4 linked regions of the Homo sapiens genome follow. The protein of the gene in region 1 binds, or shares a complex with, the protein of each later gene. Each region holds a gene or a part of one and is shown in the gene's direction. Other genes may lie near its edges.

Region 1 (7,668 bases):
TGCCTGCCTCTCAGTTCCCTGTTAATGATATTTTAACATTGTCAGTATCTGAAATTAACAATTTACTTCTTATTTTGTTTGTTACCTATCTCCCTCTTCCCACTAGAATATAAGCTTTGAGGCCGCAATTTTTCATTATTTGTTGAATGAATTAATGAATGAATGTCTGCGTACATTTGCTTCTGCAGTATTTTTTCTGGCTCCTGGGTTTCCCTTTAGAATTTTATTTAAAATATAAGAAATGGATATTTCTGAACTTCATCAGAGATGGAGCAATTAGTTTCCACTGCTGCTTTATGGTGTAAGTCCCTGCCATCTCCTCCTACTCTGAGTTATTTACACATTAAGTTAACAGTTAACCAAAGTGAAGTTTATGTAAGTACAATCTGGAAAGACACTTCCTAGTTCAAGTGGAATTTGTTTTTTCCATGCCAAAAGACACGTTCTCTAGAGAAACACAGCCGTGTCACACCCTTGGAAAGATGAGGAGAGAAGAGAGACTTACAAGTACCCCAGCTCCTGTTTCTGAAAGACAGGTGGAAAATCGAAGCAGGACACTTCCTTCAAGAGAGCATGATTTATCAGGTCAAAGTTCGAATTGTTTTCAAAGGAAAACATTTATTTTTCACTAAGGCAAATTATTATTTGCCCTGTCATGGTGAGGCCTGTAAATCTAGGAAGAGTAATTATATAAAGAATAATTACCAGCTGTTGTCTATTTGGAAGGAGACTACAAGAGGAAGAAACAAATGTTCTTGAATAGACTGTGGGCTTCTTGAGGGTAGGAGCTGCATATTGTGCTTTTTGGGTCCCCCATAAGCGGCTAGCCAAGGGTGTTGTGAAATTATGTGGTGTTAAATATGTACTAAATTACCAACACATAAGCATAACGGATTGAGCTGGATTTCAATGTAAGGAAAACTTTGCTGATAGGGAGCTATTCAAGTTAACCATTGGATTCCTGAGAGAGTCCAGAAATTTTTTCTCTAAATTCCTGTTAAAAAAAGAATAAACTCTATTTAACCTTACAACAATTTTTTTCCAAGAAGAACTAAATGACTTTTTTCAGTCTCTACAAAGTGTGACCTCCCTCACATTAACCATATTTAACAGGAATAGGTATTAATAGAGCTAGTCTTTAATAATGGGCAATCTTCCCTCCATTCACTGAAATTCAAAACTTTAGTGATTTTTAAGGAAAAGTCACTGAATTCTCGAACCATAAGTGTCCAGAAAGTGGTATGTATGGTTCAAACTCTGGCAAACCTTGCTTGGAAAGACAGAGTTGAGAGGTCAGATAATCCTTTGCTAGTGGCAGAACTTCACACCCTCAGCAATGTAGATGGAGGGTTTCATAATTGAAGTGGAGTTTGCATTGAAAAGTCTGTAGACAAGATCCACAGAATACTTCTCCCTAAATTAGTAACTGTCCAAAGGGGAAATTTTCTAAAGAGGAAGAGGGACAGAGAGAAAGGGGCAAAGTATCATAAAGACAGGGGATTTTAAAATAAATAATCAATAAAAGTACCAGGAATGTGTGACTACCACATTTTAAGATGCTTATTTTATGAATGCCCCTTTGATGAACTAATTTCATTTGAAAGCTTATTTGCAAATATAAGGTATTCCACTTGAAGAATAGCTTATTCTAACCCAGTGTCTTTAGGTATTTTTGTGATCTACAGAAAGAAATACATTTTACTTTGCAATTTCATACACAGAGATAGAGAGAGAGAGAGAAATAAGACAAGTTTCAAGAAACCACTCTTGTGCTTTCAAATGGCGATGAACTCTGATATTTTCTATCCTATTCCACTTCATTTTTTAAATGTTACTTATGCCCACTAACTTGATTTCAAGATCCAGTAATGGGTCTCATAACATTTTCAAAACAATGCCAATTCCCCTTATCAGACCATCCCCATGTTAACATCCACCCTCCAAAAACTTACCACACTGTGTCCATGTAGGAAATACTGTGATAATATTAAGAAAGCAGTAGACTTAAATTTCTGTAAAATCCAAGTGTTTCCAACAGGTACATAACCCCTTTGGTGTTCAATAAATATCTGTTACTGACAAAGTCAATTTAATCTTCTTAGGGGACAAGAGAGCTTCATCCCTGATCTTGCTTCTGCTGTGTCACCTTCCCTGAAATATTCTGCCTACAGAGAACTCTCATTGTTTCCCCCAATATTGTATCTAACACAGTTCACACTTTAATCAGCTGAGGTTGCTTATGCTTAGACCACAAACAGTTTAAAGTTTTATGATACACCCATGCCATTTTTCTCAATAACTTTTAGACTTTGTTTACATTATGGTTAAGGGCTGCATCCCACATATATTCATTAGATTTATAGAATCAAGCCCATCCTGCTCTCAGAATACTGGTTATCAATATCAGGTAGGCTGCCCTAGGATTTAACCTCCAGCGGAAAAATCTCCTTGTACTTGTTCTATCACACAATGCCGAGGGCGGCAACACTTTCTACTCAGCAATAGTCTCCCTGAATCATTGTTATTTCAGTGACTTGGGCTACAACCTGAGAAATTCTCAATGTTTGGCCCCAGCAGTTGACCATAGGAGACTCTCAAACAACTTTAATATTTCTCTGCTGTTTGCACCAAAAGAAGGTAATTAATATTCCAAAAGAGAATTCTTAAAGGAGGTCATGGTCAAGTGTTGGCTGGTCAGGAGCAGTTGGAAAGCAGGGAGCTATTGAACTCAAGACAGATTGAGCCCAACCCAGCACGGAGTGAAGATTCCTATCTAAGTTCTGAATTCGGAAGGGTTTCTTATACAGGCTTTGTTTAAGTTACTGTGTCTGTGTGTGTGTGTGTGTGTGTGTGTGTGTGTGTGTGTGTGTGTGTGTGTGTGTGTGTGTGTATGTTCCTTTCAAAGCCTCCTTGTCTCCCAGTTGCCCAGCCTCCTTTCCTAGTCACATTTCTTACTGCTAACAACATCATTCTCACTTATCCTGGGAATGAAGGGACTGTACAATCTTCCTCTGCAGTGAGGCAGTGCCTTAGGGTTTGAATGCACAGTGAGTCACACACAGCCCTCTGGGTCACCAGACTGGAGGTGACAGGGAAGGGGGGAGTATATAGAGGAGGGAGCCTGGAAAAACAAAATCCCTGGAATGTTGGGTGGGAGAGCTGATCTGATCCTTGAGTCTGTCCTCCACTGGATCTCCTGAAAGCCTCAACCACACAAATTAGGGGTCCCTGTTGTCTCTCTGGGGTGGGGTATGAGGATTCAAAATAAAACAGGAGCATGCAAAATAAAACGGGGACATTTTTTGCCTACAGTCACTGATGTTTCCATGGAAGAGCTCCAAGGATGGTTGGGTGAGGGCTGCAGTTCCATTCACAGGACACCTCCTTCTCTGTCACCCGGTGTTGTCCCGTGTGCTTATGAGAACCTAAGATCACCAGGGAAAGTGTGCTGTCGCCGTCTGGCTTTCTTCCCCTCCCATTAAATGATTGCTATTATTTCTTTTGCCAAGGAGACAGTGTTTAGTAACCTCGACGGTGCACGGCCACCTTGTGGTCCCGGGACGCACCGGATGCTGTTTTCTTAGTCCAACACCGCCTAAACAGAGTTAGGGAAAAAAGTGTTGGCTCCTGCCTTGATCCACCCAGTTGTGGGCTAAAAGAGGTTGAGGGTGACTCGTCCTTGGAATCAACTTGCCTGCCTCCCAGGGCGTGCCTGCCAGCCTCCGCTGCGCCCCGCCTGGTATTGGATTGTCCCGGACTCCTGCTGACATCGAGGGCTTTAGGGGGAAAGAAGAGGAGTCGCAGTGTCCGGCACCAAGTCAGGCACCCCATATCCCCGTCTTCCCTCGCCATCCTCTCTGTTTTCATTCACCCTAAAACACTGTGCCCACCAGCAGTCCCCTACACGGAGGGCACTCTTTCTCCAAATCCAAGTTATGCCTCCAGCCTACAGCCGCCCAACTCCGGACGCTTTCCCAGGGCTTGCCTGACCCCCAAGGTGTCTCTTCTCATCTCCTTCCTCTCAGCACTTTTTTCCTTTTAGCACCCCAGCTCTTAGCCAGCCGTCTTCCCACGTCCTCACCCCACTTTCACTACCTAGCCCACTACCGACCCTCCCTCCACAGGCTCCCTAGTGCTGTCCCCGGAGTGGCGGCTGAAGAAGCCAGGGTCACAATGTCTCTGGGATAAGGTTCTTGTGGAAACTCACCTCCCTCCGGAATTTGCATTCTCCGGGGAGGGGACAGGGCTCCCAGAAAGCTGTCTCCCAGTCCAGACTGTCGCCCCCCTCTCCCTCCCTACTCAAGGTCTAACTCGGGTCCCTCGCCTGCTTCCTGTGTTTACGCGGCGCTTTAGTCTCCCGGACTCGCAGGGTGAGCCCCAGCCCTGACTGGAGCGAGACAGCAGCCGCGAGCGCAGCCCCACTCGCGGGCCGGGGCGACTGGGGCTGGCGCGAGGCGCACGGAGCTCACCAGCTCGCCCCTCCCTCTCCTGGGACAGGAGGGGGCTGACTGGGGTGGCGGGGTCCGGGAAGGGGGGCTGGCTCTCATCAATTCTGCTGCCACCTCCTCTGCCGCCTGTCGGGAGGCGGGCGGGGGTGGGGCGGGAGCGCAGGCTAGGATTGAGACTCTTAAGTCAGGAGAAGTTTGCGCACAGCTTCACAGCTGGGAGAGCGCAGGAAGGCGCCGGGAAGGTGAGCCTCCTGGACTCTGGGGAGGTAGAAAGCAAGCCAGGGGAAAGAACAGTTGTCTTTTAGCTGATAATACAACCTAGACTTGGGTCTGAACCACCTAAGACAGATTTAAAGTGTCAGAAAACCAGGAGAGGGGCGGAGAGGGAGGACTGAGACTAACGCAGTTTGCTCTCGCATCAAACTAGGAAAGCCAGCCCACCAGCGTCTGGGTGGGCTGCGCCGCGCGGCTGGCGGACCTTCCCGGGTTGGAGAAGTGCGCACGTCCGCACCTCACCCTGCGGCTGACATCTCCTGCCCAGGAGATGGGCGCTGAAGCTTGAGCGCCTGAGTCCCTGGAGCCACACCTGCGAACACCCTTTGCTTCTATTGAGCTGTGCCCAGCCGCCCAGTGACAGAATTCCAGGTAAGGAGCGTTTGGAAATGAGCGGGACTTAACGATTTGGGGTGTCCAAGGGATGTTTAACAGTGCAGGTGCTATAGGCACCTTGCTTTTTGATTATAGAAATGTGGTTTGATTGCGGTGCTTGTGGTTCTCATGTAGGGTCAGCTAGGTCTTAGATGCTTTACTTTACCCTTGTCAAAGAAAAAAGAAAAATAGGTGTCCTGGGAAGAGCCAACAACTTATGGTTTCGTATTGAAGAATCGTTTGATTTCTTGTGACTTTTACTATGTTGTTCATATCAATTTTCCCTCAAAAGTTTTATTCTCCAACTTATTGGGTAGGAAAATTACGGAGGTTAAAGTTGTGAATTTTCCCAAAGGGTGTTTATTAACTGACAAACATATAATATCAGCATCTATAAGATGTGTCATGGTTGTTCTGGATATTGGAAATGAGCACAGTAGTGAATGGAGTTGCTTGTTAAGTCATGTTTTACAGAGAATAGTTTTCCAACAATCATTTATGCATAGCAGCCATTCTTCACACCTATTAGGAAAAATATGTTGTGTGCATAGTTTCCAAAAGAGTACTCTTTTTCATGATGCTCTTCCCAAGCCTGGGTGAAAGACATCAAGAAAAGCTGTAACAAATTAATTCCTTTTCTCAAAACATTCATTTTCCTTGAGGTCCAAGTCAAAAATCAACAATACAATTGAGATTAGTAAACTATCATACAGACTTTATTTGGCAAATCTACCTAAGAAAAGTTTCATATGAAAGCTTTAACCTAATACTATGTGACATATGCAAGAAGAGAACGCAGGGTTTCACTTGCCGATCTTAAGGAGACCCTGACTATTTCCAGGCTGTGGTTAACCGGAATCAAGTTATCTATGTAAGGCTATTTGTTGAAATTATTCGGTGATTGAAGGTGAAATGTTCAAAATAAGTCAAAGTTTTACAATGTAGTTCTTAAAGCTAATCTTTAAATTACAGAGCGTCCGAGTTTAAGTCTGTCTTAAATGATCATAGAAAGCAAATATTTTATGTATTTGGGCCAGTTGACTTACCATTAAGGACAAAGTAGGAATGCTTTTAGTATTATGGAATTTATAAAGTGTAATTTCTAATAGGATATTGCTAGCCTATGAGTTCAGTAGTAAAATAACTCAGCTTTAAAAAGTTGAGATTGCTGGTTATACACCAGTATTATGAGAGAAACTAAGATGATTAGATTTGTAAAACCTTTACAGTTTAAGTTGGTATTCTCAGTGGATACTCATTTCTACTCAATATTTTAACATAACTCAAAACATCCATCAGCCAGGATTTGTTCTGGTTCAATGCCTCTAACCTGTAGTTTATTTTATGAACTATAGCCCAAGAATAATATCTGGTCATATTATAAAATGTTCTAAGTTTATTCATTGGCTACATCAACACAATAAGTAAACAAGAAATCTTCATTATAACCAGTTTATAAGAACACATAGATAATCTTGGAGTTGTTTTGTTTCATGATTCTCAAAGTTAAAAAGAAATAGCTGATATAAATACGTCTTCTGTTTCTCATTTTGAAACTGGAGGTAATGATTGATGGTGGATGGAGAGCATTTGCTCTAATCAGTTGAAGAAAGGGAGCTAACTATTAGTTTAGTTGTGCCATGGCAATTCTGTTCTTGATGAACCTCTCAGACTCTGTCAATGTTAACATGAATGGAAATATTATCTACTGTTGGTTTTTATTAGAGTCCTAGTGAAATGGAAATAGGAGACCGGTAATGGTTTCAATGATAATCTAAATCAGTATTCTCAACTCGGGCTGCAAATTAGGGTTAATAGGAGAACTTTCAAAAAATACGGATGCTCAGCCTTACCCCAATTCAATCAAATCAGAATATCTGTGGAAAGGGTCTGCAATTTGATGTATTTCTTTAGGTGATTGTAATATGCAACCAGGATTGAGAGCCACTGACCAAGAGGGTTTCCACCAGACTTGGTAGAACTCATTGATGTGGGAGGCTTTTGATAAAAATAAATGTTGTTTGTTATATCGCTGGTCAAATAGTTTTTTCTTTAAAAAAAAGAAACATATATGTATAAACATACATATATATGTATAACTTGATCTTACAATTAGAAGAAAAATATTTTAATATTTGATGTTAGATATTTAGACCGTAACAGCTTCTCGGAAAAACATTTTTTATCCAGAAAACAAGCTATTGAGTTTGAAATTGATCTGCCCATCCAGAAAATGTTTTAGTAAATGAACTCCAGCTTTAAGAGATGTTGAAAATAATACTTGATGAAACATACAATTTCATCTCCTTTTGCTTAAGACCTGTATACTGTGTAAAGTACAAATACGTACCCTTTTGAAAGAGGAGAAAGAGGAAAATAGCATCATTCCCCTTGGCACACTAACTACCATATACCCGGTGCCAATGATAATCTAGTACTTTTACAAAAAATATGTTTTAAGCTAAGAGTAGCCTTGTGAGTTACAAGCTATTATCATTATTTTATGTATGAGGAAATTGAGGACCCATTAGATTAATGAACTCGCTCAAAGCCACGAACCAAGTAAATTAAA
Region 2 (7,245 bases), on another chromosome or scaffold:
CTCCTGGCATAAGTATCTAGGTTGTATTTGTTACTATTTACCTTGTACCTCTTAAAGACAATGTATCTGTGCTTTGCCACAGTAGAAGCAGGAAGGAAGATGCTTTTGAACAAATGGAGCATAACAAAAATGTCTGGCCTATTCTTCCCTCTTACAAGTCTTTAACAATTTTTAAAAATGACAATCAATCAAATTCAGCCAGGAATTTTTAATTTACCATCTAAAGATATAGAACCTGTGCTGTGTCATCAAGCGGTTCTAATTTAGGTGGTGGATGGTAGTGAGCCTCACTATCACTAGTACAGGCAGCCTAGGAATCATCGATTCTGAGGCCTTACTGCTGAGTTCTCCTATGAGCACATTCAGGTGTATCTGCACAATATTTTTATGCATCTTTGGTTAGGTGAAAAGCATCAACCTAGGATAGTTCCTTTGAGCATTTTCAAAATAAGGTGTATTTTTGTGTGGAAGAGAGGCCATCCATGATCAGGAGTGTGACAAAAACCTGGCCCCAACTTTTCAGCCAAGTTCAAGAAAGTCAGGGGTCTGCAGCAGCCCAGGGCAGGACGGTGTCTAGGCTGCGCTTCCTGTTCTTAATTCCAAGTGTTGTTTGGTGACTTTGAATCGCCCTCTGTTGTCTTTTCAGATTCATAAAAAAGAGGCCTTGTACAATGGGGGCAGCAGTGTACCTGAAGGGGCCAAGAAAAATAATATGTGGCATCTTCATCTGTCACACCTTTTCTTACTCGAAGTGGAGCAAACTGGGGAAAAGGGGGGAATTTCAGTCATCCGGTTGAATGGCTAACAGTGTCTTTTTATTTTCAAAGCTAACTTAAAATGATACAAGTTTGCTCAAGGCCTCTGGTGGTATCAGCCGCCCCATACCCCTGGGGACTGTTAAATGTGTTTCCATTTATAGGTAGACTTTTCTTTTTTCTCCTTCTCCATCAAACATCTTAAGTTTCATGGGCTCTGTTAAGAAGTCAAAGAAAAAGTTGGAAGACAGTTTGTGGACTTTGCATATCTGGGCTTTCCGGGACGTAGGCCTGTGTCCCATCCAAGACACTGCTCACGTCTTAGCCTGATTACCTGGCCGCCTCGGCTCACCTGGGCACATGGTGAGCCGCGGAACTGGCAGGCACCAAACATTTATTGAATGAATAAACCGTATCCCAGCAGACACCATGGTGGCAGCAGATGACCTAACCAAGGTCCCAGGAAAGGCGGGCTGGGGTCAACTGCTTGAAAATTTAGTAACCCTGCTCCTAATCCCGTGCACTGCTATATCCTAGTGTGCGGCGGGACACTTGAGAGTTTTGAAAGAACCCTCAAACAAGTTCACGTTCCGTAAACTACTTTTCCCTCTGTTCCAGAGCCCCCAGGGCGCCCAGGCAAGGCCGCCACCTCTCCCACCTGGGAGGACGCCTCGAGCACCGACTCCACAGCCACGGCCACCGCTCCTCGGCTCCCGTGACACCGGCGCGCCTGCTGCTTCGAGCAGGGGAGGCTTTGCACTCCCATCGCACTTTTCTCGTCCGAAGATACGAAACTCCGTCCGGGCGTCGCAAATAATTCGAATTCGGCTCTCTGACACCTACCTCGGCGGGCGCGCGCCGCTGGGAGGGCGGGGTGGGTGGCTGGAGGTAAGGAGGCGCACAGCAGGGGTAAGCGCCGCCGTCGCACACTTTGCACGCCGCCCAGGGCTACACCACTCACCGAAAATTGGGAGGCAGGTCTGGGAGGCGGGGTTGAGCGCCCACCGCCTTGGGCGCGCCCGCGCCCCCCGCCATCGCGGCCCCCGCGCCCCCGGCCCACGCCCGCGCGGTCCCGGCACCGGCCTGCACCCCCAGGGTGCGCGGCGGCCCATTTGGGTGCGTCCCCGGTGGGCCGATTTTTCGCGCTTCCCCTTCGGTTTATAGGGGCCGCTGCTATGGGTCGGTCCTCTGAAGAGGCTGGGGCGTCATCGGGGCCGGTTAGAAGCTCTGCTCCCCGGCGGGGACACTCAGTCGCGTCGGCACCGCGGAGCGGGCTGCGTCAGGTGGCTGGCCGGCGCGGCGCTCCCCTGCTCTCTGGCTCCGGGCTGCGGCGCGGCGGCTGGAGCGAGCCCCTGTCCCGGCGCGGGGCGGCGGCGGGCGGCCGGCAGGCGCTGCCTTGCGTGTGAGTGCACCTCACTCACATGTAAGTCGGGGAGCGCCGGGGCCTCCCGCGGAAGTGCGAGTCGCCCGGCGCAGGCAAGAGCCGCCGGGTCCGGGACAAGGCAGGGGCGCCCGGGCGCCGCTGCCTTGCCCCGGGGCGCCTCCGGGCACCCCCCAATTCTCTCTCTTTTCTCTTCTCCATTGGCGTGCCCAAGAGCCAAACCAAGGAGCGCCTGAGGGTAAACAGACTCCTGCCATCCGCGCCTTTGCACTTTTCTTTTTGAGTTGACATTTCTTGGTGCTTTTTGGTTTCTCGCTGTTGTTGGGTGCTTTTTGGTTTGTTCTTGTCCCTTTTTCGTTTGCTCATCCTTTTTGGCGCTAACTCTTAGGCAGCCAGCCCAGCAGCCCGAAGCCCGGGCAGCCGCGCTCCGCGGCCCCGGGGCAGCGCGGCGGGAACCGCAGCCAAGCCCCCCGACACGGGGCGCACGGGGGCCGGGCAGCCCGAGGCCGGGGGCAAGCAGGGAGCCCGGGCCAGGCGCGAGCCGAGCTCCCCGAGGTGGCCGGGCCACCATGCTGAAGATGGCCATGAAGCTCAAAGCCCGGGCGGCGGAGAGCGAGAAGAAGACGGCCGCGGCGGCTGCCGAGGTGGCTGCCGAAGCTGCGGCGGCGGCTGCGGCGTTGGCCGAGCCGAGAGAGCCGCTCGCGCCGCGGAAGAGCGGGGACCCCGAGAAGCTCGCGAAGAACCCCAAGAACCCGGCGCGGGAGGCGCTCCCCGAAAAGTTCCTAACAGACAAGGAGCGCAAGAAGCTCGAGAAGAAGCTGCTGGAGCAGAGGCGAAAGGAGGAGAAGAAGAAGGAGAAGGAGAGGAAGAAGATGGAGAAGATGCTGAAGAAGAAGAAGAAGAAGGTGCCAGAAGCCCAGGAGGAGGCCCGATGCCCCGAGGCCGCCGCCGCCGCGGCCGCCGCCGACGACGACGAGGGCGCCGAGGAGGGCGCCGTCGGGGGCGCCGAGGAGGGCGCCGCCGCCGGGGGCACGAGTAGGGCCTGGGCTGACTGGGACACGGACTCGAGCGACGAGGACGACGCCTACTACGCGGCGCCGCGCGTTGGGGGCATCGTGTGGCGGCCCGGGCCGCTCAAGGCTGGCGCGCTGAGCGCCCACCTGCCCCTCGTGGTGTTCCTGGTCTTCTCGGTGCGCAGCCCCTCGTGGGTGCTCAACTTCCTGCTGCAGAAGCGCACGGAGCAGGGCCGCGGCTGCGGCTTCGTGTTCGGGGCGACCTGCTGCTTCCGAGTGTTCCTGGGCTGCGCCTTCTTCTCCTACTTGGGCGGCCGCGCCAAGCGCAGAGGCCGCGGGCGCTCCGGGGCCAGAGGCGCCTTCGGCTCGGGCCATGGCGCCCGGCGCCGGGGGCGCGAGGAGCGGCTCATCTAGTCAGACCCCCCACCCCGCCACCGCCACCAGACACCACCATCGCTGTGTAGTGTGGGTTTTTATTCGTGTTCGTGTGTGTGTGTGGACACATTTTCCTTTTCGGTTGCTCTGTCCTTTGGTTCGTGCTCGCCTCGCTTTTTCCACACTCCTGCTCTCTGGCTCTCTGTGTCTCTCGCTCTTTCGAAAATTTTCCTAAGTCCGGGCGCGCGCTCCCTCCCCTTCCGCCCACCCCAGCCCCTCGGCGGCGCCCGCGGGAGGGGGAGGAGGCCTCGGGGGCGCCGGGCGACGCGGTCCGGGGGGTGGAGCGTTGGCGTCGTGCGAGGGGTCGTCACTGGCGCGGAGACGCCCCCTCTCCCCCCTCGGCTCAGCCGGGCTGCTGCCCGAGCCCGGGGGGTGGGGGGCGTCTCCCCGGCCCGTCCCGTCCCCGGCCGGGCGCGGGCGGAGGGACCCCCTCCCCGGGCTCCCGGGGGGCCGCCTCCCTCCGCCGGCTCCCGCCCTCCCAGCCGCCGCCGCCGCCGCGGCCGCTCCTCGGCCCTCCTCCTCCTCCTCCTCCTTCCACCCCCCTCGCCGCCGCCGCCTCCTCCTCCCCCCGCCTCCCCCCGCCCGCCGCGGCGCTTTTGGCTCGGGGCGGCGGCGGGGGCCCGGCCGAGGCAATAAGAGCGGCGGCGGCGGCAGCGGCGGCAGCAGCTCCCGCAGCTCCTGCTCTGGTCCGCCTCGGCCCGGCGGCGGCCATCAGCCCCCTCGGCCTCGGCTCGAGGGGCGGGGAGCTGCGCGCGCCCCTCGGTCCGACCGACACCCTCCCCTTCCCGCCCGTCCGCGCGCCCCGCGGCCCGCGGCCCGCAGTCCGCCCCGCGCGCTCCTTGCCGAGGAGCCGAGCCCGCGCCCGGCCCGCCCGCCCGGCGCTGCCCCGGCCCTCCCGGCCCGCGTGAGGCCGCCCGCGCCCGCCGCCGCCGCAGCCCGGCCGCGCCCCGCCGCCGCCGCCGCCGCCATGGGCTGCCTCGGGAACAGTAAGACCGAGGACCAGCGCAACGAGGAGAAGGCGCAGCGTGAGGCCAACAAAAAGATCGAGAAGCAGCTGCAGAAGGACAAGCAGGTCTACCGGGCCACGCACCGCCTGCTGCTGCTGGGTAAGGGCGGGCGGGGGGCGCCGGCCCCGGCCCGGGGGCCCTCGAAGGGCGCCCCGCAGGCCGCGCGCGCCGAGCCCGCCCCCCGCCCCGGGCGCGCGCTCCCGAGCCCCCCGCCCGTTCGCGGGCTCTGTCTGTGGGGGGCGAGGCCGGAAGGGGGACCCAGGGGCGCGGATTCGGCCGGGCGGGGGCTCAAAAACGGGGCGGGGGGCCGTGGCGACGCGGGCGCGGGTCCCCCTCCCCCGGCCTGCCCGCTCAGTGTCTCTCTCTTGCTCTCGCTCTCGCTCTCCCCCTCTTTCTCTCTTTCTCTCTTTTTCCGCGAGGCCTACACGACGCCAGGGGTTTGGGTGCGTGTTGGGGAGGGGGAGGGGGAGCCCATGGGGCTCCGGAGACTGCGACAAAAAGAGGGTTTCGGGGACAGGAAACCGGGTGGCGGGTAGAGGGAGGGGGACCCGCCTCCGTGGGGTGTGAGATTTGTTGGGAGAGGGAAAGAGGGGAAGAAAGGGGCGAGGAGAGGAGGGGGTGACGCTGGGGGGCGCCGTGGTGGCGGAGGGGGCCTCGCCAAAGGGAGGCTTTGGCGGGGAGAAGTGGCCGAGGAGAGTGGGGGGGCTGGTGACATCAGCCCCTCGGAAAGGATCGGAGCGGTAAAGGTGGTGCAGTGGGGGGGAGGGGGCGCAAGGGAGTCGTGGCGCCGGAGTCGGGAGGGGGGCGGCGAGGGGAGGAGGGAGGGCGGTTGCCGCTGGGCGCGACTTGGTGCGTTTCGGGCAGGACCGACTGACTGTGTGTGCGCGGAGCAGACGTGTCCCGGGCCAGGCCGGGCCGTGGAAGGAGGAGAAGGAGAGTCAAATAAAATAAGACCACCCCCCAACACCAAAAAATGGATAGAGTTAGTACGAGAAGTGCCCAGTGAAGCCAAATGACACGTCATTTTACAGTGTGACCTTTTTTTCCCCTTCCAGACTTGCAGGCTTTTTCAAAAGCAGAGCGGAGAATTAATTGTAGCAGCTGCCCCCCCCACCCACCACGAGCAGCGCCCCCCCAACACTATTTTAATAAACCATTAAAAAAAACACATTTTCCTGCTGGCTGGCCACATTGAGAGTGCTTTGTGAAAAGAAAAAACAAAGACATTCACAAATCAGATAAAACTGGAGAATGACATTTGTCTGTAAATGGCTTCTTGGTCTGGAAATGGCGTGGTTTCTTTTTTTTTTTTTTTTTTTTTTTGTCCTCCTCAAGGTGGGAGGGGGGATTGAGAGTGCTCTAAGGAGACTTTTCCTCCAGGTGGGAAGAGATAAAAAGACATTAATTAGTTGTTTATCAAGTGACATTTAGTTGTTTGGTTTTGGGTTTTCTTTTTTTGATTGCGATTTTTCCTCTGATTAAAAAAATAATAATAAAATAAAAAAAGGTTAACTATAAGGAGATGGCCTTTCCTCCTTTTTTTTCTTAAGGTGCTGTTTTGGGGGAAAAAAATGTAATGAAATGACCAAAAGAATTACACAGCATTAATTAAAAATGGAAGTTTTCCACTTCCTTGATAATTTGGCTATCTGAATAAATTTGTGAATTTGCTAGGTTAAGACCTAGTTCGTGGTCACATTTCAACAAAACAGCTTGAGTATAAAGAAAATAATAAAAGGCTGTTCTTATTTATTTTCCTTTGGTGGCTTTTGGTTTGCTCTTTTTGCATAGGTCATGACTTTGTTCTCCTGGGTCCAGATTTATAAAAGCAGAAAATTACTAATTAAGTCAAAATAAGTGTCTTTGGTGTTTATGCATTTGCAATTTCAGTAATTAAATGGTACATGTGTTGCTGTCTTGTCTAAAACTTTTAAAGGCAGAATTATGCTGTTGGGATATTAGTATGCGTATAACTTGATTTCAAAGTATAAATCTGGAAAAGTCTAGAATCTTTTCTGTGAATGCTATCTCAGTACTACTTTAAGTCAAGTGTGATGCTAATGATATCTTAAAATTTCCAACACCTTTTGTGCAGTGATCACAAAGTCTCCACTTAATTTGAGACTGTTACTCAGAACACGCCTTGCGTCACGGGGGCTAATCTAAGTGTCCTAGTCTATATGACTACATTACATCATGATGTATTGATTGCCTCTGGCCTAGGAATCTGCAGCTTAAGCCAGTGACACAATATTTTGCATTTTTAAATGGTGATTCTCACCAAATAATGCCTCCCCACAAAAGAGGAAACCTAATAATGCCCCAAATCCTCTTTTTACTCCATCTTAATGACATAAAAATTAAGTGAATTAGAGAACTACAATGATCTTAAAATAATTTTTCAGCCACATTTCATAAATGTGGAAACTGAGGCACGGATCTGTTTTTGCCTATGAAAGATAGGTCCTGTAACTGTTACACAGTTTAACACTTCTGAAATTAGAATATTAGAGATCCTGCTAAATATTACGTATTGTTTCCTTGGCCTCTCTTAATAGTGCCATTTATATTTTTAATTTACCAGAGTTAGGCTCATTAAGATAGTGTTTGCTTTGAAATCAATGTTTCTGTGGAAACTAATTTTAACTTTTACA
Region 3 (7,534 bases), on another chromosome or scaffold:
GAGTACGTCATTTGTGTACAGTTCTTTTGTCTTTTGCTCTTTTGTCTAAATGTGCTTAGGTTATGTCTTTTATTCCTGATCCACCCAGGGTGGCTATGTTACACATTTGTAATATAGTCTCCTAGAGGTTAGGGGTTCCTTCAGTTTGTATGTCTGACATTTCATGTCCCGGTTTTCTGCAGTAGCTCTAGATGGACTTGTCTCTTGTTTGTCTCTATGGTATTGGGGTATTTTAAATTTTTCACGTCTAGAGTGTTAAGAGTTCGTCTTTCTGGAGATTGTTTCATATCACCCGTAGGCCTGTTCATCAGCCTCCCTCTTGGCTCCACGATTTTTCTCAGTCTGCCTTTGCTCACACTAAGCATGTGGCTGGCTGAGGGTAGTATAGGAGTGTGAGTTGTGTAGTGGGATTTGGTGGGAATTTTTTCCCTGTTACTCAGCTCCTTTGCAGTTGGAAAATTCTCCAAGTAATGCTGAGGACAGTTTTATATAGAATTTATTTTTCACTTCTTGTTTTTTGTTTGTTTTGTTTCTTGGGGGAATAGGGGAGATAGGCAACTTCTGTTCTCAGCTACTTGCAAGTGTGTTGGTTTTAACAGTGGGACTTCCTGCAGGACTTGAAAAATTGATAGTTGATGAACCTGAGTTCCCTGAGATACTGCTGTTTTTGTTAGTGTTTATCCAGCAATTGCACGATTTAAACAACTCACAGAACTAAGTTGTTATTGCTTATAAGCATGTTATCTTCAGAACCACTGATTCATTATTGATAATGATTGAAGTTCAGCCTTTAAATTGCAGGCCTGATAGTGAGGACACCAGTGGAGTCTTCCCCTTCATATCAGCAAGTTATTGAAAAACTATCTGTAGAATATTTGATGCTTTTTTCCTTCCAGTACTTAAAAACGTTCCATTGTATTCTGGTGGCATTATATCCCATGAGAACTCTTCTGTCACCCTTACCTGTGTTTTGTACATCAGCAGTCCCTAGCCTTTTTGGCACCAGGGACTGGTTTTGTGGAAGACAATTTTTCCATGGGGTGAGAGGGGGATGGTTTAGGGATGAAACGGTTCCACCTCAGATCATCATTCTCATAAGAAGTGCAACCTAGATCCCTTGCATGAACAGTTCACGGTAGGGTTAGATCAGCTACTGCTGATCTAACAAGATGCGGACCTCAGCTTCACTAGCTCACCCGCTGCTCACCTCCTGCTGTGAGGCCAGGTTCCTAACAGGCCATGATCTGGTACTCCTGTGGGGTTGGGGGACCCCTGCTATACGTAATGTCTTCTCTCTCTGGCTGCTTTTAAGGTTTTCTCTTTATTACTGGCTTTAGGCAATTTGATCGTGATGTGCTTTCACATATTTTTCTAAATGATTTTTGTGCTTGGAGTTTGGGGATGTTCTTGGCTCATGGGTTAATAGAAAATGTTCCACATAGTGGTTTTTCACATATTTCCCACCCATCTTCCTCCAGGGGCTCCAGTTACACCTTAGAGTTGCCACCTGGAGTTGCCTCATGGCTCTCTGATGCTTTGTTCTTTTATTGTTTTTAAGTTACGGGATGTAATAGCTACTTGGAAATCATTTGCTCCTGTTAGTTCTTGCTTTTAAGTTTTGTTAGGCAGCACCAGAATAGCCTTTGTAATTTTTACTGACTACAGAGAGGGACTTGCCCTTCTAATTATGCTCTGATGTTCTGTGTATTTCAAGATTTTTCCACTATGGTTGGTGGGAACTGGAACTATTCCCAGCTGGGTGTGGGCTCTTAGGCTCTTTTCCCTTGGGTAGTGTCCTTAGATGTGTGGGCTGAGACTCAAGTGGGACCCTCTGTGATCTCGCAAGCGCATTCTTTGCGCAGCTCTTTCCTCTCTGGTACTATGCCCTGCCAGCGTTAACTGCCTGGCTTCCCCAGACTCTCTTTGGGTTTCCTTTCTCCATCTGTGGTCTGCAAACTCCAGGCAGTGAGCAGTTGTAGCACTCACCTTATTTGTTTCCCTGCTCTCAGGGGTCCCTGCACTTCTTGTGGTCCACTGTGACAACTGTTGTTTCATACATTTTGTCCAGTTTTTTAGTTTAAGATGGGAAGGTGAGTCCAGTCCCTGTAACTTCATCTCGGCTGGAAGCAGGAATCTTATGTTAATAGTGAATTTTTAGCAGTGTTGACCAGGCTTTGATTGTATCTTTAGCCCTACTGTGTATGCAGTAAAGCACTTGGCCATTTTCTAATCTCTTCTATTGTTTAACCTAATGCCCCTCTAGATTGAGGTACCCTGGGAGAGGAATGATTTTCCATGCTACCTATGACCAATTAGAAATACAGATACATCAGACTACAACTTTTGAAGACGGGAAGCCCATAGTAGTTGCTAAGGAATGTCTTACTTAGACCCAAGGTACAGACAGGAAAATCATTAGGAGAGAACATGCCTCTAGGTGTGTGCCTTACTTCAGCATTCTCCAGAGAACTGTGAATTTCTAAAGCATGTGAACTTGAGAAATAGGCTTTGTCTTCTTAGGAAAATGTATCCTTTAGGGGGTGTTGAGAAAACAGCAGTGACAGGGGCCTCTGGCCTTGCCTCCTTGCAGTCAAGCTTCAAAGAGAAAACGTTGGGAAGAAAGACTCCTGCTGAGCCTGATGAAAGAGGAGTCCCAGTTGCCAACCAAAAACATGCAGCCAAAGTCCACAAGCTACAAGTAGAAAGGGTGGCTCAAGCCAGAGTCCCTGGATATGGAGGGCGAGTGATGGCTGCAGAAAGATGCAGGTTCTTCTCCCCCACTATGACTGGCCATCGCCTAGTGCAGGATGTACGGTGGCCCTGTCCCAGGGCTGTGCTGGCAGCCACCCTTCCCCACTAGCTGTGCTGCTCTCACATGGCACGGCCTCTGGCTGCCAGGCCTGTGCTCGGGCCTGCATTTCCCTTGTGCCCTTCTCTCCACCCAGCCCTCAGGACTGCCTGGGCTGCATTTTGTCCAGAATCCTTTGTCTCCTTACTTGCACTGCAGCTGAGGCGAGTGTCCCTTGTTCCGGGTGGCTCCTGTATTGTGGCGCTCATGTTATTGAGAGTCTTAGAGGTCACCCCCTAGATTCACCAATTGAAGGGCAGGGCTTGTCGATCTAACAGTGTCTTGCACATAGGGACACAAATGTCTGTTAAATGAAGAAAGTAGGGATGCCAGGCCACCCAATGGGGTGTATCTCCTAGGGTTCAAGAACAAGGGCTAATCAAGTCAAGAGAATGTGTGCCCTCCCCCACCATCTCACCCCTCACTCTCAGAACACTTGGGGCCCCTGCACAGGTGGTAGGCATGCTGGCCCTGAGTGCCCTCCCAGCCTGTGTTAGAAGAACCAGTGGATGACCTCGCTGTCAGCTGTCTCCCCTTCTCTGAGCTTACTGCAGGTGGCAGCAGCCTCTCAGCCACAGACTGTTCCCTTTCCTAGGAGAAAACGATGGTCACTCAGCAATGCTGTGCGCTTGCAGCTTCCACCACAAAAGAGACAGCTGTGGCCGCAGCACCAGGGTGGTGATTCTTCCCCCTCCAAGGGCAGTGGTGCATTCCTTAGCACAAGTATAAATTTACTGTTGCTAAGAGTTCTCGGAACAGGATAATACAAGAAGGAACCACTGCAAGTGAAATCCAGCCACCAGTAATGCCGAGAGGCCAGGCCTGTGCCTCCCAAAACCTGCTCCTCCGCAGGCTTCCCCGGCCCATCTCCAGAGCGCCCTCCTCTCACCACTTTACATAAACGAATGTACCCAAGATCCCCCATCAGTTTTCCATGCAGCTGCCAGAGTGCCACCAAAGCAAACCTCATCTCAAGACTCTGTGGCCAGGCCCTCACAACCTCCTGCCAGGCTCTCGCTACCTACCCATCAACAGCAAGACTCCCAGGCCATCTCAATCCCCCCAAAGAGCCCTGTTCCTCCAGCCCCACGGCTTCTGTTCACCTGCCGTGCTGTCCCCGCCTCTGCCCACCCACTCATCCTGCAGATCTGGAGCAGCATTCCAGGGCCTGGTAAGTGTGCGCCATTTTGGGTTACTACGGGTCTCGCCAGGCGCGGTGGCGAGTTTTGCCCCCCACGCTCCCCAGCGCCTGCACCTGGGCGGAGAGGTAGATAAGGCTGGGAGATCTTAGCCTTTTGCAAGGCAAACACCAGGCAGGAACGCCCAGAACCTCGGAGGAGGAGGAGGGGAAGATCCCCAGGTGGAGACCAAGGTGCCCCTCACGCTGAGTCGTCTAGGAGACCCTCCCTAGTTTAAAAAGTGTTTATTTGCTCGGAGAACATTTCAGGAGGCCTTCCTGGGACCCCAAGTGTGCCGCCCCCCGGGAGGGGCCTGGAGACGCCCGCGCGGCCCCCCTGCAAAGTTTTACCGGCCCTGGGCGCCCCCGGCCCTGGCACCCACGCGGGGAGCCGCAGTGGGCCGGGCCGCGCGGCCGCCGCCTCCCACCGCTCCCGCGCCCGCTCCCGCCCCCGGCGCGTCTCCTCCGGGCCCGCGCCGCGGCGGGCTCAGTCCTCAGCGGGGCGCGTGGCGAGCGGACTCGACTCGGCACCGCTGTGCACCATGGCCCGGGCCCTGTGCCGCCTCCCGCGGCGCGGCCTCTGGCTGCTCCTGGGTGAGTAGGTCCAGGGGTCCCGGCCGAGCTCCCTTCCCCTGGCCAGCCGGTGTCCTCTAGGGGAGAGGAGGGGAGCGGGTGGGAGCGGGTGGGAGCGGGTGGGGGCGGGCGCCGCGGGCGCACAGATCCGCTGCCCTTGAACGCGGGCCGCCCCGGTTCCAGGCGGGAGGCCCCAGGGCACAGGGGAGGCGGAGGGCGCGGACCGGTGTTGCGCTTCTCGCCGGGGAAGGGACGGCTTTGGGGACGTCGGAGAGCGGGCATTCTGGAAAGCGTGGGGTGAGTCAGCCCTGCACACTGGAGAACTAGTTTTCAGAAGGAAAAACAGGACGCGGGGTTCCCCAGCCCCGCACCTCGTTTCTCAGGCTGTGCGCCGCGGTGACTGCCAGCGCAGGCTCCCTTCCCTAGGCCGTCCCGCGTTGCAAAACCTGCAGACGGGCACCTTGCAGAAGACGCAGTGTTCGGGAATCAGAACCACAGCCGGTTTGTATGGAAATTAGTCAACACTGACAATCTGTCGCCTGCAGCAGTTGCTTGTTTGCAAATCACGTCTTTTGCAGAAATGAGGCCAGCCCTTTTCGGGACACTTCCATCGCTTTTTTTCTTTTTTCTTTTGGTTTGCTTGTTAACTTGGCACTTTTGGCTAATAGAAATTTAAAGAAGGACGGGTCCCTTGGTGAAGTGGTGGAACACGTTTGGCTTTCCACTTGGAGGGAGAAGTGGAGATTAGCGGCAGCCTCATGGCCACAGGAACTGGCCACACACTCGGCAAGAAACGGTGCTGTTCACTTCCCTTGTCTGTAATGTGTTCCTAAAATGCTAACTCAAGCCCCTTCTAAACCGCTTTGGCTATTGCATTATTCCGTGTATTTAGCTACCTTTTAACGGAAACTGTGAATAGGTTACTGGCGTGGGAGAACCCAGTGTCCCTGGGAAGGCCGGAGCAGTTGTTTCTGGTATGTGTGGCCTTTCCCCGGAAACAGTGATGTTGGTCAGAGGCACCTGCCGCACAAGACCTCTTTGGCGCTGGCACTGGGCAAGCAGGGACCACCGGCGCTGTTGTAGCTGGGGGAGTGGTTCGTGGCCCAGCGAGGAGAGGGGCCAGGGCTTCTTGGGAGCCATGGATTTCTGTTCCCTATTTGTAAACCTCTCCAAGGGGTGGCAGATCTGCATAGAATCCTCAGAGGCCGATATAATATAATCTGAAAGCGGATCTTGCCACTTTAGAGTTTTGGCTGAAGTTACGTGGAAAGCAGAATCTCGCAGTAATTTTATTCTCTCCATTTGGCTTGACATGGCCTTCACTGTTTTCATTTACTAAGAAACAAACATTTCTTTGTTAGCAAGGCAGAGAGCTGGGTTGTGGAATATTTTTTACATAAATAACCAAATAAATAAACGTTCTTTACTAGTGTCCAGAGGCTGAACCCTCTAAAGCTTGTGTAAATAAAACACTATGTCACGATCACATATAAAGACCTTCCTTGTTTACCGAGAAAACTATTCATGTTCTGCCGAAAGTCCAAAGTCCTGTAATTTTAACGTTATTTTGAGTGGCCTGGCTAATGTTATCTCTTGGAAGAACAAACAAAACTTTATGAGGTTATCAGTAAATTAATGTCATTGGAGCCCAGCTGTAATTAGTAGAATTACTGAGCACAGGCTGTTTCCTTCCCAAGCTGTAGCACTAGCCAGGTCTCCTTGGTGATGAAGATTTTGCTACCAAGAATGGCAATGTGGAATTTTTTTAAGTACTCTAGTTTACAGGTTTAAGAACTTATCTGTGACAATTTTACAATCAAGCTATTTGTCTTAGGTAGTTATTAAGAATCTCATAATCCGGCCAGGCATGGTGACTCACGCCTGTAATCCCAGCACTTTGGGAGGCTGAGGTGGGTGAATCGCCTGAGGTGAGGAATTCAAGACCAGCCTGGCCAACATGGTGAAACCCCGTCTCTACTAAAAATACAAAAAAAATTAGGCAGGCATGGTGGCAGGCACCTATAATCCCGGCTACTTGGGAGGCTGAGGCAGGAGAATCGCTTGAACTCAGAAGGCAGAGGTTGCAGTGAGCTGAGATCATGCCACTGCACTCCAGCCTGGGTGATAAGAGTGAAACTCCGTCTCAAAAAAAAAAAAAACTTAGGATCCATATATAGTTCTTTTCCCTCTGAGCATCCTGTGTACTCTTCTGTTTACTGGAGACTCTACATGCATTCTGAAAAGTTTGTGTATAGACACCGAAAAGCTGTTCGTTAACCAGGAAAGAAGGATGCGTTAGAAGCCCCTGGTTTTTCGAGTCCATCTTCACTCAGGGAATGCTGGCTGGTGCTGTCACACATGAACTCAGTCACCTGTCCTAGGAAACGCATGCCTTCCTTGGCTGTCACGTGGGAGCCAGGGGTTTTTTTAATGGCTGCAACATTAATTGAAATGTATGACTTTATATAAATACAAGTAGAATTGGAATGACAGGGACATCACAGGAAATGCTATGTGACTGCTTCAGATTGCCATGCGGTTTTAAATCTGGACACAGTTCTCATGCCAAAGTCCAAATCTGAAGGATTCTTATTTGTTAATCAACTCAGTGTGTTTGTTTACCCTCTCTGTGTGTCTAGCTGCAGGAAGAAATTTCTGGATTTTTGTCTTCCTTCCACAGGCGCATGCCTGTCAGCGTGCTTATTACCAGTCCGAGGCCAGGGCTGTTGAGAAACATTTATATCCACAGTGCAAATGGTAGATTCAGCTCCGGGAAATGTTTTAGGTGGAATCTTTAGTTAAGGCTAGTTGGAAAAGTCTGTCCTGATTTTTTTCCCCAGAATGCGCCCATTTCATAGCTTCTAATCAGTTACAACTGGCGTCTGGCTGACTGTGTGATGCAGGTGCCATGTGTAGTGTGAATTCCAGCGGAAATG
Region 4 (6,958 bases), about 48 Mb from region 1:
ACAGATAACATTTTAATGTATTTTCCTCAAGACATTTTCTGATAGGTTTTTCAAAAATAAAATAAAATGAAAGTAAACTTGCTTCATTGACTTAAAAAAGGAAATGAATGGCAGATGAATGGGTAAATGAAATGTGGTCTATCCACACAACAGAATATTATTCAGCCTTAAGAAGGAAGGAGGCCGGGCGCAGTGCTTCACACCTATAATCCCAGCACTTCGGGAGGCTGAGGTGGGCGCATCACCTGAGGTCAGGAGTTCGAGACCAGCCTGGCAAACATGGTGAAACCCCATCTCTACCAAAAATACAAAATTTAGCTGGGCGTGGTGGGAGGGCCTGTAATCCCAGCTACTTGTGAGGCTGAGGCAGGAGAATCGCTTGAATCCAGGAGGTGGAGGTTGCAGTGAGCCGGGATGGCACCATTGCACTCCTGAGTGACAAGAGCAAAACTATGTCTCAAAAAAAAAAAAAAGGAAATTCATCTCAGCCTCCACAGTATCTGAGACTACAGGCGCACCTCACCACACACGGCTAATTTTTGTATTTTTTTTGTAGAGGCGGGGTTTCACCATGTTGCCCAGGCTGGTCTAGAACTCCTAAGCTCAAGCAGTTAGCCCACCTCGGCATCTCAAAGTGCTGGGATTACAGGCATAAGTCACCACACCCATCCTAAAATGCTTGATTTGACGTTAAGTATTTTTTATTGCAATTAAACAAATGAGCAAACAAACGCAACAGGAGATGGAAGGCTGTGTCTTGATCCGTGGGAAGGTGGAAAACAGCTGAGGGTCAGAGGCACCCCTTCCTGGAATCTCCTTCATCACCCTTCTTTGAAGACCGGTCCTCTGTGTCCCTGGAGAGGGGTCACCGAGGCGTTGCTGCTGCCTCAGGGACAGAGGCGTAGTCTCATCGACAATGATACCGTTATTTCAGTGTCTGTCCAGCAGGGGGAGCCAGGTGCCCGGGAATGGCTTCCCTTGGCTCCTTCTCAACCCCCACCCTCCTGAAGTCTAGCCCCAGAGCAAGCAGAACCAGATCCCAAACCTCACCAGGTTCTGTGCTCAGGCCCTTGCCTGGACACGTGGACTCCGGGCAGAAGCATTACTTCCAGGGAGAGTGAAGGCCCAGCGGCCATGTGTTCCCCTGATCTGGTAGAAACACCAGGATGTTATTTCTTCCTCTTAGAAGAGGCCACTTGAGTGTCAAGAAAATGTTCTCTTACAACTATTTAAGAATAAGAGGAATCACAGAATAAATATCATGATAATGGTGAATCAGGGCTTGATCAGGAGAGAGACTACACCGCAACCTGAATGGGGAAGTTTGGTGTAAAGAATTATGAACCGGCCGGGCGCGGTGGCTCACGCCTGTAATCCCAGCACTGTGGGAGGTCGAGGCAGGAGGATCACCTGAGGTCGGGAGTTCGCGACCAGCCTGACCAACATGGAGAAACCCCGTCTCTACTAAAAATACAAAAATTAGCCGGGCATGGTAGCACAAGCCTGTAATCCCAGCTACTCGGGAGGCTGAGGCAAGATAATTTCTTGAGCCCCGGAGGCAGAGGTTGCAGTGAGCCAAGATCATGCCATTGCACTCCAGCCTGGGCAATAACAATGAAACTCCTTCTAAAAAAAATATAAATAAATAAATAAATAAATAAATAAAATAAATAAATAATTATGAACGCTAAGAGGGGATTCCTGAGAGGACCCCAGTGCACACAGGATCGCAGACACAGGGAATGGTGCCGGGGCCAGCACCCACCGAGGGACAAGCAGGGAGACAGGTGCTGTCCAGGGCACACCCCATGGTCAATCTCATTTATGGCGGCAGCCTTTCCACACTCAGGGTCGGGGGGATGCACCGTGGAAGGGGCAGGTCCCTCTCTCCCATGGCTCAGCTCCTCACAGCCTGTGTTAAACCCACCTGCCCTGCAGAGGCCATGGGCACCACTGGGCACAGAGAGGAGAAGTGAGGGCCCTGCCTTAGAGGGACCTAGGGGCAGTAGACACAACTCCCTGGGAGTTTGTTGGGGCATGGTTGGTTCCATGGAGGAGAGGTGTTGGAACCCAACTCTGTAGAATGGCCAGGGCTTCCCCACTGCAGAGCCAGGGTGGGGAGTCCAGGAAAGGGAGCATTGCTCCCTGGTGCAGGCTTGGGGGAACTGGCTGCCCCCCTCCCACCTGACAACCCCATCCTACTGTTCCAGCCTGCAAGCTATGTGCAACCGCCTTTGGGGCTGTGGGACCGAGTGGAGACTAAGACTCTCCTGGAGAGAGCTGTAGGGCCGAGTCTGTGTGGGATGTGGGTGGACACCTGGGCCTGGACCATCCTCTTGGTTTGTCTTGGCTGGTGTAGGGTGTGCGTGTGTGTAAGCCAGCCCCCTGCTGCCCTGGTCAGCTTGTTTTATGACCCCTGGCCTGTGGGCAGAAGGCCTGGCTGTGGGCACCATCAGTCTCACTAGAGGCTCTGTGGCCACCCCTACACCTGCTGCCCACCCCTCAGGCAGAAGGCAGGACAAATGATCAATTTTAATTAGTTTTGACTCCTTTGAATTAATTCTGGCTGTAATCAGAATTTCTTCAGTAAAAAAGCACAGAAAGTTCTTCTCCCGAATAAGGGTCTTGTTAAATAAAGTGGGTCTTTCTAAGCCAGGAGAAGTTCAGCTCAGCTCCTGGGAAGGTAGCAGTACCTACGGCTCAGAGGAGTGGAGGGCCCATCCATGTAGGAGCCTGGGCCTGTGCCCCAACCTCAGACCAGCATGTGCCCCCAGGGGTGGTGGGTGGGCCCTGGAGGGCAGAGAGGTGCCTCTAGCTGGCTCTCGGAAGTCCTGACCAGTGACAATTCTTAAGACACCATTAAGTGTCCACTGGAGCCAGGGCCTGTGCTAGGGGCTGAGGGTGACAGAGGTGACCCATCTGGCCAAGTGACCTGTGGCTGGAGAAACTGAGGCCCTCCTTCGCCTCAGGGACCCTGACACTCTTCAAGGCCAGGTCTTTGGTGGTGCCAGATACTCTCCTGTCCCTTGGTTTGCTTGTGGCTTGGTTCTTGGTGTGTGATACGTCTCTGTGTGTGTAGTTGCCACACCCTCCAGTCTCTCTCATACACACTGTTTCCCAAGCATACACTCACAAACACACCTTGTCTCAGACTCAAACACACACATGCCACACACACACCATACATCACACACTCCATGCACACACATGCATCTACACACACCCCACATGCACATCACACACACGTACTCCATGAACAACACACACACGCACACACACAGACGCACACACACACACCCCCCAACCTCTTTTATGCACTTTCCTGACCTTTGGAGACCTGGCTCCTAGATGTATCTCTGCTCAAAGTTCCCCTCCCTGCCTGGGGGCAGCTCTGGACTCTGGTCTACTTTCGGCCAGGGCACACCTAGCCCACTCCCAGGTCCACCTTCCTCCAGTCTACCCCCAGACTCCTCTAGGCCATCATCAGCCAGCGCTTCATCCTCACCTCAGCTCCCTCCCCGGTCTACCCCCACCCTCTGCCCCTGAGCCTGGACGGAAGTTCCCCAAGTCTCTCCAGCCTGCATCCCAGCCCACCGTCAGCCGGCCCCCACGCTCACCCCAGCTCACCTCCCAGTCTGCCCCTACAATCTGCTCCCAAAAAGCTCCTTTGCAGCTCAGCACCCCAGCCCCGCCCTCAGAGCCCATCAGCCGGCACCCCACCTTACCCCAGCTTGTCCCCAGCTCGAAACCCTGCCCTCGCCCCCCTCTCACCCCGCTGAGACTCCAGCCGCCCCCATCCCTCCCACCCGGCGCGCCTGCAGGGACTGCACCCCACATCTGGAGGCAACGGGGCACGGCCGCAGGCGTGGTCTGGGGGTGCGGCCTGAGGGCGGACCCCCTGAGGCCCCGCCCCACCCCAACCCCAACCGGGCGTCCCCCAGCCGCGCCCCCAGCGGGACCGAGCGTGACCCAGCTGCGGCCGGCCAGCCATGGAGACTGGAGCGCTGCGGCGCCCGCAACTTCTCCCGTTGCTGCTGCTGCTCTGCGGTAAGGGGGCGACGGCCCGCACCGGGGGCGCCCCCACTCCTCGGGGTTCACCGGACCCGGGTGGACCCGCGCCTTCCCGCACCTGCGCCGCGGTCCTTCCCTTGCCCCGGAGCTCGGGAGGGGCGCACAGTGACCCTGGCGGGATTCCCAGGCTCTGCGGGAGGGTTCCACCCGGGAGAAGCTGAAGGCGAAGGACTCTGGCGGGCAAGGGAGGCACAGGGCCCCCTCCGGGGTCTTCTGACGGCAGGGTCCGGCAGCCCCCGGTCCTTCTAGTTGTGATGTCCCCCCACGCCCCGGTTCTGGGGTCGCCTCAGGGTGGGCGAGAAGAGGTGGACCAGGTCTGGCTCTTTACCCCTTATCCCCCAGGGTGGGCTGTCTGTAAGGTAGTGAGCTCTCTGTCCTGGCATTGAGTGCCTGCCCACCACTCACAGGGGCGTGGGCGGGTGGACTCCGGACTGGGTAGCTGGTCCTCCCAGGGCCCCTCAGTGTGTGGACGCCTGTGTGTGTCCTGGAACTGGCTGAGAGGGGAAGCGGGGCGACTCTCTGAGCCATCCTCTCCTAATGCCTTCTTCGGCAAGAAATCAGGACTCTAGGAAGAACCATTGCTCACAAAATGGAAATAGATTAAACTAAAAGCTTGTTTTGAAGTACCTTGCTAAAGAAATTATCCAAGAAAAAGTAAGAGAGAGAGAGAGAGAGAGAATGTGTGTAAAGGCTGTTGGGGAAGAGTGCTTGCTGAGGGCTGGGGTCCACTGAGTGGTGACTGAGCCTGGCCAGTTCTGGGGGGGACATTGGTGATGGAGGGCCCTGGCCTGGTGGTCCCCAGTTTCCCTGGCTGTAAGATGCAGAGTTGGGCCTGTTTTGATGATTTGGGATTTGGTACGGGAGGTGGGAAAAGGGTGGACCAAACTCAGTGGTCATTTTCCTTCCATTGAAGAGGTCTTGGTGTGCAGAACTTGTGTGGCTTCATTTGGTGTTCCAGGGCTGGAGCCTAGGATGTGGTGGATTTTGTGTTGAAGTGCAAAGGTGGATGGCAGCTTCTGAAATCAGGAGCATGCTGATTTGGGATTTCAGCAAACTTCCAGTGAGCGCCCCTTAGGTGGAGATCTTGGTCGCTATAGTGGAAGGAAGGTCCTCTCAATTCATTCTGGGAGAAGCTGAGGCTTTCCTGATCATCTCCAGTATCAAATTGAGAAGGACCACAGGCTTCCGCCTGCACAGAATCCCCCCTTAATAATCCTGTCTCTCGTGGACCCAGTTCCTGAGGGCCACTTCTTTGTCCTGTTGTGTTGGTCCTGACTGTCCCCCTCCAATGGGACATGGGTTCACGCTCCCTGGCCAGAATAGGGACCAGGTCCAGCTTCTCAGCAGACCCTCCCAGTGTTCGACTGGCCAGAGTGAGATTCAGGGAGAGGTAAAACTTGCTCATGGTCCCAGGCCGATGTGTCAGAGGTATCCGGGACTGGAACCCACATCTGCCCTGGATGCTGCTGTGTCTGGAAGGAAGGAGCTGGGTGGGTTCCTCTTGACTGAGGACTAGCTCAGGAGGACCAGCAGGGAGGGTGCAGGCCTCTGGGGCTTCTTTGAGAATTCCAGACCTTTTTCCAGAAAGCATTTGATGCTGTGTGGGGCTGTGGGGATGCGAAGTCCAGCAGTTGTCTACTCAGCAGGACACTTTGCTGTGGTGCCCAGCTCTTGACTGGACTCTTCTGGTCTGGGTGAAAATCCTGATCATGATCCCAAGATTATAAAGCACTCACTGGCCTCAGTTTCCGAGCTGCAATGTAGATGTAATAATAGCAATCTGTAAAGGGCTGCTGAGACCGTCAGTTTGATTCCATTCAGTTTAGTCCCTATCACCTTGTGTTGGGCATGGGATTGTGGGGTGGAAGGGTTCATGCTTAAACAAGGGGAGGTATGGGAAGGCACCCACCAGTGACTGCACTGGGCCTCATGAGGCTCACTCACAGCACCCAAAGATGGAGCACCATAGTGTGTGTGCCTGTGTGTGCAAGCGTATGAACATGGTACCATCGTTTTTATCATTAAATGATGTCCTGCTGCCATGTTACCTGTGGTCATATTGATTCTACTGAATCAAGTGGGCCCAAGGGCCATGGTTGGATAGCAGTAACTCTGGTGAATTAAAGACTTGGAGGTGGCCGGCCGGGTGCGGTGGCTCACGCCTGTAATCCCAGCACTTTGGGAGGCCAAGGCGGGCAGATCTCGAGGTCAGGAGATCGAGACCATCCTGGCCAACATGGTGAAACTCCGTCTCTACTAAAAATACAAAATATTAGCCGGGTGTGGTGGTGCATACCTGTAGTCTCAGCTACTCAGGAGGCTGAGGCAGAGGAATCGCTTGAACCTGGAAGGCGGAGATTGCAGTGAGCCGAGATCATGCTATTGCACTCCAGCCTGGTGACAAAGCGAGACTCTGCCTCAAAAAAAAAAAAAAAAAAAAAAAAAAAAAAAAAAAAAAAAAGACTTGAAGGTGGTGATTGGCCAAGAAGAGGCCCATAGATTTTTGGCACTGGAGGTTCCTTGGAGGTTATCTGACCTCCATGCTCTTACCTATTCTTCATAAGGAAACAGAAATCTGGAGGTTAGAGAGGAAGTTGCCCAACCACAGAGACCAGGGGCAGAACCGCCCAGAATCCACAGCCTCCCAAGGTCGACTGACCGTGGCCCATGGCAGCCACTTGCCAGTCTCGTCGATGCTCTTTCTGTCAAGGAGGGGGAGAGCGCCTGTGTTTCATTTCCAAATGACTAGCCACAAAAGCCCTTTCTGGCGGAAATGCATCTGTTTGGCTGTTTATCATCTCTCAGTGGCGTCTGGAAGTCCCTGAGACAAAAGAAACACAGGCCGGCATGTTCTTTGTTTCCCAATGAAACCAACCAAAATGGATTT

Evidence for each region.
Region 2: the proteins of CALCR (region 1) and GNAS are in contact, whole or in part, in a cryo-EM structure (PDB 7TYY), measured with the Homo sapiens proteins. Residues at the interface, in NP_001158210.1 of Homo sapiens: Arg180, His184, Glu240, Tyr243, Leu244, Leu247, Ile248, Val249, Val250, Ala251, Val252, Phe253, Glu255, Lys256, Ile319, Val322, Leu323, Lys326, Met327, Glu329, Thr330, Lys340, Lys343, Ala344, Ile347, Leu348, Leu351, Tyr391, Asn395, Asn396; in NP_000507.1 of Homo sapiens: Lys34 (codon at 4,651), Gln35 (codon at 4,654), Arg38 (codon at 4,663), Ala39 (codon at 4,666), His41 (codon at 4,672), Val217, Phe219, Tyr358, Phe376, Cys379, Arg380, Asp381, Ile383, Gln384, Arg385, His387, Leu388, Gln390, Tyr391, Glu392, Leu393, Leu394.
Region 3: the proteins of CALCR (region 1) and RAMP1 are in contact, whole or in part, in a cryo-EM structure (PDB 9AUC), measured with the Homo sapiens proteins. Residues at the interface, in NP_001158210.1 of Homo sapiens: Arg45, Lys46, Met49, Asp50, Gln52, Tyr53, Tyr56, Asp57, Met59, Gln60, Gln61, Thr75, Trp76, Asp77, Gly78, Asn124, Arg126, Phe235, Leu238, Ile242, Thr246, Val250, Ala251, Gln257, Arg258, Trp261, Tyr262, Leu265, Phe269, Ile276; in NP_005846.1 of Homo sapiens: Trp59, Ile63, Tyr66, Arg67, Ala70, Asp71, Phe83, Trp84, Pro85, Val89, Asp90, Phe93, Leu94, His97, Gly98, Phe101, Ser103, Arg109, Ala110, Val111, Arg112, Asp113, Pro114, Ile118, Leu119, Phe122, Ile123, Pro126, Ile127, Val129.
Region 4: the proteins of CALCR (region 1) and RAMP3 are in contact, whole or in part, in a cryo-EM structure (PDB 8F0K), measured with the Homo sapiens proteins. Residues at the interface, in NP_001158210.1 of Homo sapiens: Arg45, Lys46, Met49, Asp50, Gln52, Tyr53, Lys54, Tyr56, Asp57, Met59, Gln60, Arg74, Thr75, Trp76, Asp77, Gly78, Asn124, Arg126, Phe235, Leu238, Ile242, Thr246, Gln257, Arg258, Trp261, Tyr262, Leu264, Leu265, Phe269, Ile276; in NP_005847.1 of Homo sapiens: Cys57, Leu59, Ile63, Tyr66, Glu67, Thr70, Tyr83, Trp84, Pro85, Gln90, Ile93, Thr94, His97, Arg98, Phe101, Ser102, Cys104, Val106, His110, Leu111, Glu112, Asp113, Pro114, Val118, Leu119, Leu122, Ile123, Pro126, Val127, Leu129.

What each region holds. Positions count from the first base shown.
Region 1 is NC_000007.14:93,571,714-93,579,381, reverse strand, and holds the start of CALCR (calcitonin receptor isoform 2 precursor), read left to right. Parts: upstream 1-4,657; 5' UTR 4,658-4,690; intron 4,691-4,875; 5' UTR 4,876-5,093; intron 5,094-7,668. UniProt on the Homo sapiens protein: G protein-coupled receptor activated by ligand peptides amylin (IAPP), calcitonin (CT/CALCA) and calcitonin gene-related peptide type 1 (CGRP1/CALCA).
Region 2 is NC_000020.11:58,887,176-58,894,420, forward strand, and holds the start of GNAS (protein GNAS), read left to right. Parts: upstream 1-4,245; 5' UTR 4,246-4,551; coding exon 4,552-4,690; intron 4,691-4,987; exon of another isoform or gene 4,988-5,331; intron 5,332-7,245. UniProt on the Homo sapiens protein: Guanine nucleotide-binding proteins (G proteins) function as transducers in numerous signaling pathways controlled by G protein-coupled receptors (GPCRs).
Region 3 is NC_000002.12:237,855,109-237,862,642, forward strand, and holds the start of RAMP1 (receptor activity-modifying protein 1 isoform 1 precursor), read left to right. Parts: upstream 1-4,514; 5' UTR 4,515-4,567; coding exon 4,568-4,619; intron 4,620-4,788; exon of another isoform or gene 4,789-5,099; intron 5,100-7,534. UniProt on the Homo sapiens protein: Accessory protein that interacts with and modulates the function of G-protein coupled receptors including calcitonin gene-related peptide type 1 receptor (CALCRL) and calcitonin receptor (CALCR). Required for the transport of CALCRL to the plasma membrane.
Region 4 is NC_000007.14:45,153,840-45,160,797, forward strand, and holds the start of RAMP3 (receptor activity-modifying protein 3 precursor), read left to right. Parts: upstream 1-3,951; 5' UTR 3,952-3,989; coding exon 3,990-4,047; intron 4,048-6,958. UniProt on the Homo sapiens protein: Accessory protein that interacts with and modulates the function of G-protein coupled receptors including calcitonin gene-related peptide type 1 receptor (CALCRL), calcitonin receptor (CALCR) and G-protein coupled estrogen receptor 1 (GPER1).